2 separate regions of the Homo sapiens genome follow, and region 2 is linked to region 1. A link means that fine-mapping ties the variant in region 1 to the expression of a gene that starts in the linked region. Tissue or cell type: subcutaneous fat. Region 1 holds a variant in brackets; the other region holds the start of a gene. All regions are shown on one strand. Distances are between the middles of the regions. Region 1 overlaps CAMK1D (calcium/calmodulin dependent protein kinase ID). Region 2 holds the start of CAMK1D (calcium/calmodulin dependent protein kinase ID).

What was found. PIP is the estimated chance that this variant, and not a neighbour inherited with it, causes the effect.
Region 2: CAMK1D starts here. The variant in region 1 is fine-mapped to the expression of CAMK1D in subcutaneous fat (GTEx, PIP above 0.99). The same link has a PIP of 0.9 or more in fibroblasts and visceral fat.

What each region holds. Positions count from the first base shown.
Region 1 is chr10:12,415,647-12,420,646 of GRCh38, forward strand. The region is part of intron 1 of CAMK1D (calcium/calmodulin dependent protein kinase ID); the gene reads left to right. Among named protein-coding and RNA genes, the nearest start is that of CAMK1D, 69 kb to the left of the region's middle. The variant G/A (reference allele first, on the strand shown) is at 2,616.
Region 2 is chr10:12,346,769-12,352,253 of GRCh38, forward strand. It overlaps CAMK1D (calcium/calmodulin dependent protein kinase ID), which reads left to right and starts at 2,779. Exons shown (of 11, transcript NM_153498.4): 1 at 2,779-3,142. The coding sequence starts at 3,051. RefSeq lists silencers at 1,938-2,197, 2,238-2,797, 2,968-3,057 and enhancers at 3,094-3,593, 3,768-3,927.

The DNA.
Region 1 (5,000 bases):
CATGACTATTTTTCAAGGTCCTACTTCAAGATATTTTGTGTCATTATTCTAAAGTCAGTGCTAAGAAGTCACTTCCCTACGGAAGTGGATTAAAATTACGTTTTTTTTTTTTTGTCTTCTTTTAAAAAAAGATAGACATGGTTGATAATGAGATGGCTTTTTTTTTTCTTTTTTTCTGAGACAAGGTCTCGCTCTGTTGTCCAGGCTAGAGTGCGGTGGCACAATCACAGCCCATTGGAGCCTCGACCTCCTGGGCTCAAGTGATCCTTCAGCCTCAGTTTGAGCAGTTTGGCATATGTTCTGAATCTGAGGTTGATTATTATTCCTTTAGCGCTAGTATTACACTGAGACCTGGAAAAAAAGAAAAAAGAAAGCGAAAAACCATTCGCATTAGACTGTGGGCAGAAATATTTCTAACTATATGATTGTGGGTTAGTCTTGTGCTACGACGTGCAGTATTTCAGAATAAAAGGTGGTATATAGAATTCACTTTTTGGATATTATTCTTGTTTTTTTTTTAGCATCTACATTTTTTTTAGGAGATACAGAATAATCTCTTTAAAAAAACAGCGTTAACTATATTAATGGAGAAGTCGCTGGAAATGTCACTTCAGGTGGAAACATTTAGTGTGGATTTAACTTTTTATGGAATTATGCATGCAATGCCATTTGCATTTGCTGAGATTTTGTATTATTAATAGAATAGACAGATCAGCATTTTGTCGGTGTATGTAAAACTTTGCTTGTTTTTCCTGTCTTGATTGCTTGCTGGTTGCACATAAAATTTAGAGTTGGAAAAAGAGTGTAGCACAGAACAGGGGTTGGATGACTCAAGGGTCTCCGCTCCTGTCTCTGCTCTGCTGCAGCTCCGGCTGGAGGCCTTCATTTATAAACTGTCGGATGGGGCCAGGCCAAGAGTCCGTGCAGAAAAATCCCACAGTTGTGCCCTGGGGAAGCTGCTCATGGTGAAGGGCTTCATTTGCAGAGTGGAATTGCTGTAAGGCCGGGGTCTTGCTGAGCACCGGAGGGAGGGCTCTGACTAGCACTGGGCGGTGGAGAGAAGCAGAACTCACTTGCCATACTCTGTGTCAGTTTCCAGCAAGAGTGAAGTTCTGTTTTTCCGGTGGGTTCTGCCCTTTCCTTATCAGTTCAGCTGAGCTTACTCCAGGGCTTCCCCTTTGCTCCCAGCTTTCCAGGGCATGTTCTGCCAAAAATGAGCTTTGCCTTGGGTGTGTCTGATTGTGTTGTTGGTAGACTCCCTAAAAACCTTCCGGTGCTAGCGATGCTGTAGACGGCTGAGACCCATGGAGGTGGTTGTTAATTGTCACTGGGGGCCCGGGGTCACACTGCTTGGGCCTGCATCCCAGTTTAATGGTGGGACTTTGGACAAGGTTCCTCAAGCCCCCGAAGCCTCTCTGTCCTCATCTGTAAAATGGGGACAGTGGCAGTACTTGTCTCTCATAGAACATCCATGGGAGGAACTTACCTCAGTGCCTGGCATATAGCAAGTTTTCAAAAAATATTAGCTGTTAATATTATTTTTATTACCTAGACGCAGGATGATGGACCCTATGACCTTCTGAGTCTTCTTCCATCTGTGTGTGTATGTAAGACAGAAAAAGAGACTGAGAGAGAGAGAGAGAGACAAAGAACAGGAGAACTACACTGTGGATTTGGGTGATGCTCCAGGGAGGTTTGAACAGACTGTCAATGTCATGTTTTGAAGAGAGCAAGGAATTTTGGGGATACTGCTGTGCCAGAGAAAACAGGTTCGAGAGAAAGAAAACAGAGGCGGGATCCCTTACAGAGCAAGAGGTAACCAGGAGTTGTTTAGGTGGCATCCAGCCAGGGGAATTGCTCAGGGTTCTGCAGAGGGCAGCCTCTGGGGCTCCGGCTGGGGTGGGGAGATGGCTTGGCCCTGGGCTGTTGGCCTGGGAACTGGGGTTCAGCCACAGTTGAGTTCCAAGCCTCCTAGTGTTTCCTCTACCTCCTGGCTCCTTCAGAAATGAGGGCTGGGGGAGGCCCGAGGCTGGCCATCTGGGGAGCTGTGTAAGCAAGGAACACGGAGGTCCTGCGATGGAGTGGCTACACTCTTATGTGGAAGGCCAATGGGTAGTGGGCATCTCTATGCTCTTTATAACAGTAATAATTATTTTTTGCCTTTTTTTTTTTTGAGATGGAGCCTCACTCTGTCACCCAGGCTGGAGTGCAGTGGCATGATCTTGGCTCACTGCAACCTCCGCCTCCTGGGTTCAGGTGATTCTCCTGCCTCAGCCTCCCGAATAGCTGGGATTACAGGCGCCTGCCACCACACCCGGCTAATTTTTGTATTTTTAGTAGAGACGAGGTTTCACTATGTTGGCCAGGCTGGTCTCGAACTCCTGACCTCAAGGCCTCAAGAGGCCCGCCTTGGCCTCCCAAAGTGCTCACAAGAGTGAGCCACCACGCCTGGCCTCGATGCTCTTTAAAAGAAGCCCTCGCCCTGCCAGATGATGCAGTAAGCAAGAATGAATATGGATCCCCAGGGTGTGGGAGGAGAATGAATTACTTGGTAGGCCTCAGTCCAGCAGGTCAGATGAGGCAGAGAACATGCCATCAAAACATATGATTGCAAC[G/A]CGGCCATGCCTTGTGAAAGAAGAAAGCTTGGCCAGCTGTTGACTGATTAGAGATGGAGATGGGCTGGGCATCTGGCTCATGCATGTAATCCCAGCACTTTGGGAGGCTGAGATGGGAGGGTCACTTGAGGCCAGGAGTTCAAGAGCAGTCTGGGCAACATAGCCACATCCTCATTTCTACAAAAAATTTTAAAGAATTAGCTGGGCACCGTGGCATATGCCTGTAGTCCTAGCTACTGGGGAGGCTGAGGTGGGAGGATTGCTTGAACCTAGGAGTTTGAGGCTGCAGTGAGCTAGGATCATGCACTGCATTCCAGCTTGGGTGACAGAGCAAGACTCTCTCTTATTTTAAAAAAAGTTATGTATTGCACTCCAACTAGCAATGTGTGAGCATGACCTTCTTATCACATCCTTGCCAGTGATCAGCATTAAATTTTTTTTCTGATTTGCTAGTCCAAAATGAAACCTTTTAAAAAGTATTAAAACGAATGAAGGTATTACTAGAAAAGACTTGATCAGTCAGTTGAGCAAAGGTTCCAATTGCTGGGTGTGTCTGGGAGTTGCAGACCCCCACGTGGTGGGAGATGGGGAGTGACCGTCCACCCCTGCCGAGGGATGTCCTGCAGAGTGGCCATAGATGGAAGGCCTCAGCCGAGAGTGGCCATAGGTGGAAGGCCTCAGTCGCGGGCGTGGTGTGTCCGAAGCCGTTGCTCACAGAACACTTAAGAGCAGCTGCCTGTTTCAACATTGGTGCTTGACTTTCCCTATTGAATGAACTTCCCTGTCTCTTTTGGACCTCACATTCGGAAAGGTGTCTGAGAGGTCATCCGTTTCAAACTTCATCATCTCAAATGAATGGCATTCCCTCCTGCCTTTTAAAACCCCAGGGACGGGAGATTTTATAAGCTATAATGACTTTACCATATATTTTCCTCAAAACTCAACAGCCATGATCTCATGAATACTCACCCCTACTTTCTGCCCCTATGAAAAAAAAAATAAATAAAAGGCAAGAGTGAGAAAACCAAACTCAAGGAGGTGAGGTTGGGAGCCTGGGGCCACGGAACTCAAAGTTCCCAGAATAGAACTGGGTTATCCCGACACCTGTGAACACTGCGCAGTAACATTTTCCAATGTTGGGTAGCAACATTTTCCAAGTTACTATGAAAAATGGGGAAATACACGCGATAACCAGAGCCAAGTCCTGTTTCCTGACTTTTCCACAGCCTTTCTTGACAACATGCAGGGCACATATTAGACATGAGTCACCGCTGTGGTTTTCTTAGTGCATAAAATTGCACACCTCACTCCCCACCGGGCCTCAGTGGATTCTGAATGAAGCCAGAAAGTGATTCAGTCTTAGATCAGAAGAGAAAATGCACACACACACACACACACACACACACACGCAAAAATAGAGTTCTTGTTAACTTCTAGGTTGCAGAAAATACTGAGATTAGAAAAACTGTTTTTTCAGCTTCTTAGGACTTTGTATATGTTGGGTTTTCTCGTTAGGTTTTCTTTTGTAAATAAGTGGTTACCACAGTAGCTTTTCCACCAGAAACATGACTCTGGGTGGATCCTGTTGTCATAGTGATTTAATAAACTAAGTTGAGTTTTTTAGAATTTTTAGTAAGCAGTGAATAATTAGATAGAATACTTTTTTCAGCCTTAGTGAAAAATGACATCTATGTAACTTTTTTTTTTTTTTCTCTTGAGACAGAGTCTTGCTCTGTCGCCCAGGCTGAAGCACAGTGTCGAGCTCTCGGCTCACTGCAAGCTCCGCCTCCCGGGTTCACGCCATTCTCCTGCCTCAGCCTCCCGAGTAGCTGGGACTACAGGTGCCTGTCACCACGCCCAGCTAATTTTTATATTTTTAGTAGAGACAGGGTTTCATCTTGTTGACCAGGTTGGTCTTGAACTCCTGACCTTGTGATCTGTCCGTCTCGGCCTCCCAAAGTGCTGGGATTAGAGGCGTGAGCCACCACGCCTGGCCCATGTCTATGTAACTTTAAAAAATACGGTATTTTAGTGATAGAGCTGGTGGCAGCTGATGTAGTAGTAGTAGTCCTTTTCATATTACCCTTGATGGTCCACTTCAAATGAATGAACTTTAATGATTTTACTTTAATAGTTCTTACTACTTTATGAATTATTTTGTTTTGTTTTCATAACTCCAACAAGGCATTATTGGCAGTGGATTTTATGGCTTAGTAAGATCTTGAGGTAACTGAGGTTTACTAATTAACCCTTATTGATTTGTTTGGGACTTTTTGGTGGACACCTTAGTCAAATATACTCTTTTTTTTTTAATTGTCTAGAAAAATGGAATGTGCCCCCAAACTACTTAGGGATTCTGCATATTTCTAACAGCCTCTGTCTTGC
Region 2 (5,485 bases), 69 kb before region 1:
TAAAGTGCTGGCATTTTACAGGCGTGAGCTGCCACGCCTGGCCTCAATTTCATTTCTTTATCCATTCGACACACATTTACAGATCAGTCAGTATGGGTAGGTTACCGTGTCAGGTGCTGGGAAACAGTGGCGAGAAAGTTAACAGGTGCCTTGCTCTCATGGAGCTTATAGCCTGGTAGGAAAAGTCACGGCCACAGGCCACGTGGAAGTTCTCATTTGCTTTCCCTTCATCTTTACTGTTCCTGTAAAATTGCCTTCTTTCTTTTTTTCTAATGGTTATTTTTATAGATTTAGGGGTACAAGTGCAGTTTTGTTACATGGATATATTGCGTAGTGGTGAGGTCTGGGCTTTTAGCTTAACCATCACCAGAATAGGGTACACCATGCCCATTAGTTAATTTCTCATCCCTTCCCCTACCCCACTCCAATGTCATTATTCCACACTCTCTGTCCACATATACACATTATTTAGCTCCCACTTCTTCTCCTTTTTTTTTTTTTGAGATGGAGTCTTGCTCTGTCGCCAGGCTGGAGTGCAATGGTGCAATCTTCGCTCACTGCAACCTCCTAGGTTACAGTGATTCTCCTGCCTCAGCCTCCTGAGTAGCTGGGATTACAGGCATGTGCCACCATGCCTGGCTAATTTTTATTTTTAATAGAGTTTCACCATGTTGGCCAGGCTGGTCTTGAACTCCTGACCTCAGGTGATCCACTGGCCTAGGCCTCCCAAAGTGCTGGGATTACAGGCGTGAGCCACCATGCCTAGCCTTAGCTCTCACTTCTAAGTGAGAACATGTGGTATTTGACTTTCTGTTTCTGAGTTATTTCACCTAAGATAATGGCCTTCAGTTCCAACTGCGTTGCTGCAAAAGACATGATTTCATTCTTTTTTATGGCCGGGTAGTAGAGAATCAGCACTTCTTCAGCTGTGGGGATAATAGCTGAGAATGAGAATTGTTTTCATGAGCTCTGGCGGCTGTTCCTGAGGCCAGGCAGCAAGGGCAACATAGCAGAGAACCAAATAGGAAAAGAGGAGAAGGAAACACAGTGGGAGGAAGGGAAGGAGAAAGAAAGGACAAGAAGATGCTGACTGTAGGCATGAGAAAGCGACAGTTGGGATCTTAGTTGACTTATGCCCTGGTTCCCACTGTTTGTATTATCTAACCTTTGGCACAAGTAAAATACATGATAGTTTTTCAAATGTTTCTTATTGAAGGGGATGCTGTTTGCCTTGAACTTTGGTAATGTGCCTCAAGTATAAGAGAGGTTCCTTAGTAATTCTTCTCACCCATCCGTGTTGGAAATTGGGTTTGTGGATTTATTCTACATCTAACCGGCAAGTAAATCCCCTCTTTGCTCTTCTCAGTTTGGAAAACCTTAAGCTAACCGTCTTTGAAAGATGGAAACTAGCATGGAGGTCCCAGGAATGGGGATGCCAGGGTGTCGTCTGACCTCTTTAGGGTCAGAGTAGGGGCTGAGGGAGAGCAGCTGGGCTGCCTCCACTTCAGCCAGAGTCAGAACTAGGCACAAGGTGCTGGATGAAGTTTCCTATTCAGGGAGCAGATTTTTTTTTTCCTTTTACAGTGAAATTGGAACAGTCCTGGGAAAATGGGACAGGTGTCCCCAGTCAAGAGACAGAGCTGTTTACCCAACTACGAGGAGAGGCCCTGAGGGAGGCGAAGTGTTGATACCAAGAAATCTAAAATTTTCCGATCAAGAGGTCGCCCCTGCAGGTTGGGGACCAGGGAACTGGAGCACGTGGGCTGCCCTCTGACAGGTGGACACCAGGAGTGGGGCGGGCAGGCCAAAGTACAGCTGGGAGATGGGAGTCCGGAGGGAATTCTCTGGGTTAGTTTTGGCAGTCCATAGGAAAGCAGGTGCCTGCCCCGCAACCCGGACACCCTACTAAGCCAGCCGCGGGTGGGCTCCTCCTTCGAGGGGACTGCGGGGCAGACGATCACTTCTTTCCACTGAGTCTCTGGGAGGAGACAGGGAGATGCCAGAAGGGGCCAAGCGTGAGCCAGGGCAACCAGGCCGGCCAGGCCCGCCGGCCGCTCCAGCCCAGCACCAGGGCGCCCGCGCGGCTGCCAAACACCCCCGGGAGTTTTGCTCGCAAAGGGACCACGAGGCAGCTGCTGGCGCGTCCTGCGCGTACCCGCCCAGAGGCTCCCCGGCTTGCTCCTCGCGGGTCTGTCCCGAAACTGACGTGAAACCGATTTGGTGCAATGCGAATGAGCTCCCGCCCGCCTCCGCCTCCATCCCAGCCGCCGCCGCCGCCCGTCGCCATAACAACCGGCCCCCACCCCCCCCACCCCACGCCTTGCCCCTCGGGTCCCCCGGGCCACAGGCCACAGCGCGGGAAGGCGCCCCGCCCTCGGCGCCCCGCATCCGGCCGCCGCGCACCCCCGCCCGCCCGGCGCTTCCGAGCCACGCAGAGGCGCCCCCTCCCGCCGGAGACGGGAAAGCCCCGGCGCCCCCAGACTGGGCTCCGTTTCCAGCTCCCGGAGGGGCTGGGGCTCTCCCGCGTGCGCCCCGCACCTGCCGGGGGCCCGTACCCGCCCTCGCCGGGGCTCCAGGGGGCACGACGGCCGTGGCCCGGCGCTCTTGGGAGGGGAGCGGGACATCCCCGAAGGCGGCGCGCTGGAGGCGGGGAGCGGCCGGGGCGCACGGAGAGGGCGGGGAGCCCGCGGGAGGGGGAGGAGGGGGAGGAGGGGGAGGAGGCGCGAGGTGGGGGGGAGCGCGGCGGGCGGCAGGGAGGGAGCGGGAGGGAGGCAAGAAAGTAGCAGAAAGTGAGGCTGGCAGGCGGCGGCAAAGGAGCCGGCGCGCGGCGGCGGCAGGAAGTCTGTGCCCGAGAACAGCAGAAATAAGAGCCAGGGAGGGACCGCGGCCGCGGCGGCGGCGGCGAGAGCGAAAGAGGAAACTGCAGAGGAGGAAGCTGCGCCGCAGCCCGAGCCGCCCGGCATCCCCGCCGCCTCTGCGCCCGCGCCGCGCCCCCGGCGCCCCCTCCCCAGCGCGCCCCCGGCCGCTCCTCCGCGCCGCGCTCGTCGGCCATGGCCCGGGAGAACGGCGAGAGCAGCTCCTCCTGGAAAAAGCAAGCTGAAGACATCAAGAAGATCTTCGAGTTCAAAGAGACCCTCGGAACGTAAGTGGGGACCGGGGAGGCGAGGGTGGAGGTGGCCGCGGCAGGGGCTGCACGGGCAGCTCCAGCTGCCGCCGCCGCCACTACCGCGGCAGAAACCCAGCCTGTCACCGCGTCCTCATTGTCCCGTTCTCGGCGCTGCGGAGCCCCCCCGAGCGCGCCCGACGCGTGGGCCTGCGACCCCCGGGTGGGCGCCGTTCCCGGGAGGGGGAGGGGGCAGCGCCGGGCTGTCAGGGAGCAGCCCACGCGGGCGCGCGACTTCCCACTTCTCCTGCCACCGCCGCCCTCTCCGCTGCCTTCTCCCCACGCGTGACTGTGGGCTGAGCATGGTGGGGATGGCTGTTTACCGGCTGTGTGCGTTTACTCGCCGTGTGCATGGGCGCACCGCGTTGGCGAGACGTGGTCACGAGAAGATCAGCCTCCAGTCGTTCCCATTTCTGTCCTTACATCATGTATTTCTATGGAATTGGCATCTGCACGTACGAGGTGTAGGCAAGACTTTGGGTGGCCACGCGAGGATGGAAGGGAAGGGCTTCGCAGTGCTCAGGGTCACACGTGGGCAGAGCCTCACCGGAGGGTCTGTGCATTTCACGCGGGCTCGGCCGCACGCGCCGGGGAGCGCGTCTCCAAGGGAGGGTCTGTGCGCGTCGCTGCGCGGGCGGTGCTCTCTCCGGGCTGCATCGAGTCCCATGCTGATGGCTGTGTCTCAAGAAAGCAGAAATAATCCGAAGTCGATGGCAGGAACGCTCCAAGCATGTGCTGCTCAGCTCAGCTGCTGTTCCCTTTCTGCCCAGGAGTTGGGTCTTGTTTGTTTTGTTTCGGAGCGGCTCAGAATAGGTGGGGAGGCTGATAGTGAAAGAGAATCAGGACCTGCCGAATGAGTCTGAAGTTCAAGTTATTTCCTTCCCTCACACAATCAGTATTTGCTCTGCATCAGTATCTGTCAGTGTGGATTCACGCACAGGTGTGCAGTCAGAAATGCCCATTTTGCAGGGGTTCATGGAGGTGTTGATTAGGCTGGGAAGAGAAAGGGGAGCTATTTCATGGGATAAATCAGTGCGTTGTTGGGTGCCCTTTCTTTCCTTCCTCCTTTTTTTCCGTGTGCTTGTTTTTGTGCTTGGTTTCTTTTTTCCAGCACCACATTACCCAGCTTGTCTTCACCTCCAGGCTCGGCGTCTGCTGCTGTTCAGTCATTTCCCCTCACCCCCACGCAGATCTGCAGGGGGTCCCCCGGAGAGAAGTTGTGAGGGTGGCTTTCCCAGTCCTGCTTCTGATTCCCGGGAAGGCGCACGCTGAGGACTAGAGTGGGGTCTCCCTGCTGTGGTTGTTGCCTTTCAGGGAGGGCACCTATTTGCTATCTTTGTTGGAATGAAAACAGAAAAAGATGTAGCTTTTTAATAAATAGGGGTTTGGGGTTGCCTCTTAGTGCAGCCAGGTAAGGGGTTAGTTTGGGTCAAAACTTTTGAAAATTGCCACTGAGGTTTATTCGGGTTTGGGGTTGTGATTCTGAGATGCTCAAGTTACTGAGAGACAAGAAAGCATGGCCTTTGCTTGTCATCCAGGACCCGCACTGTGGCCGCCAATGAGGAGATGGGAGAGCATGGGGACCCACCCTGTGTGAATGCTTTCCTGTCCGTGGCTTGTTCCCACCCGAGCCCCCCACACTGGCTTCCTGCCTGTAGCCTCCGGGTGACTGATGCCCTGTCCCCTGACTGACTCGTGCAGCTGCACCTCTGCAGTGGCGGGGCTGCTGAGGCTCCAAGCTGTGGCTCCTGCTGGAGCATGGTGTTTGGAGATGACTGTGGGTGGTTTCCACCTTGGGGAAAAATGGGGATTTGCCCTCTGGTGCCAGAGCGCTTCTCTGGCAGAACAGCCTCTTGGACTCCAGCCATGTTCCCTGTGAGCTTTGGGAATGGGTCTCTCTTAGGGTCCTAAAGCATTGCCTTCTGCCTGGGATGGAATTCTTTGCAAAGGAGCTTCCCACTGTAGCACTGGCATTGGACCTAGAAGAATGATAGAAACAGTGTGATGATCAAGATGTTTTTACTCCACATAATAATCATGGTAATCATAGGTGGTATTCTGAAATGTATACCCAGGATCAGGTATTATTCTACGTGCCTTATGTGTATTAACTCATTTAAATCTCAGAGTAACCTTATGAGGTAGGTATTTACCATTACACCCAATTTGCAGATGAGAAAACTAAGGCAGCAGAGATAATTATGTGAGCTACCAAACCTTAGCTAACTATTAAGTGGCGGAGCTGGTATTCACAGATAGGCAGAGCAACTTTTGATTGTCCATACAGGGTTGACACACTTTGTAGATCCTGTAATGGCCAAT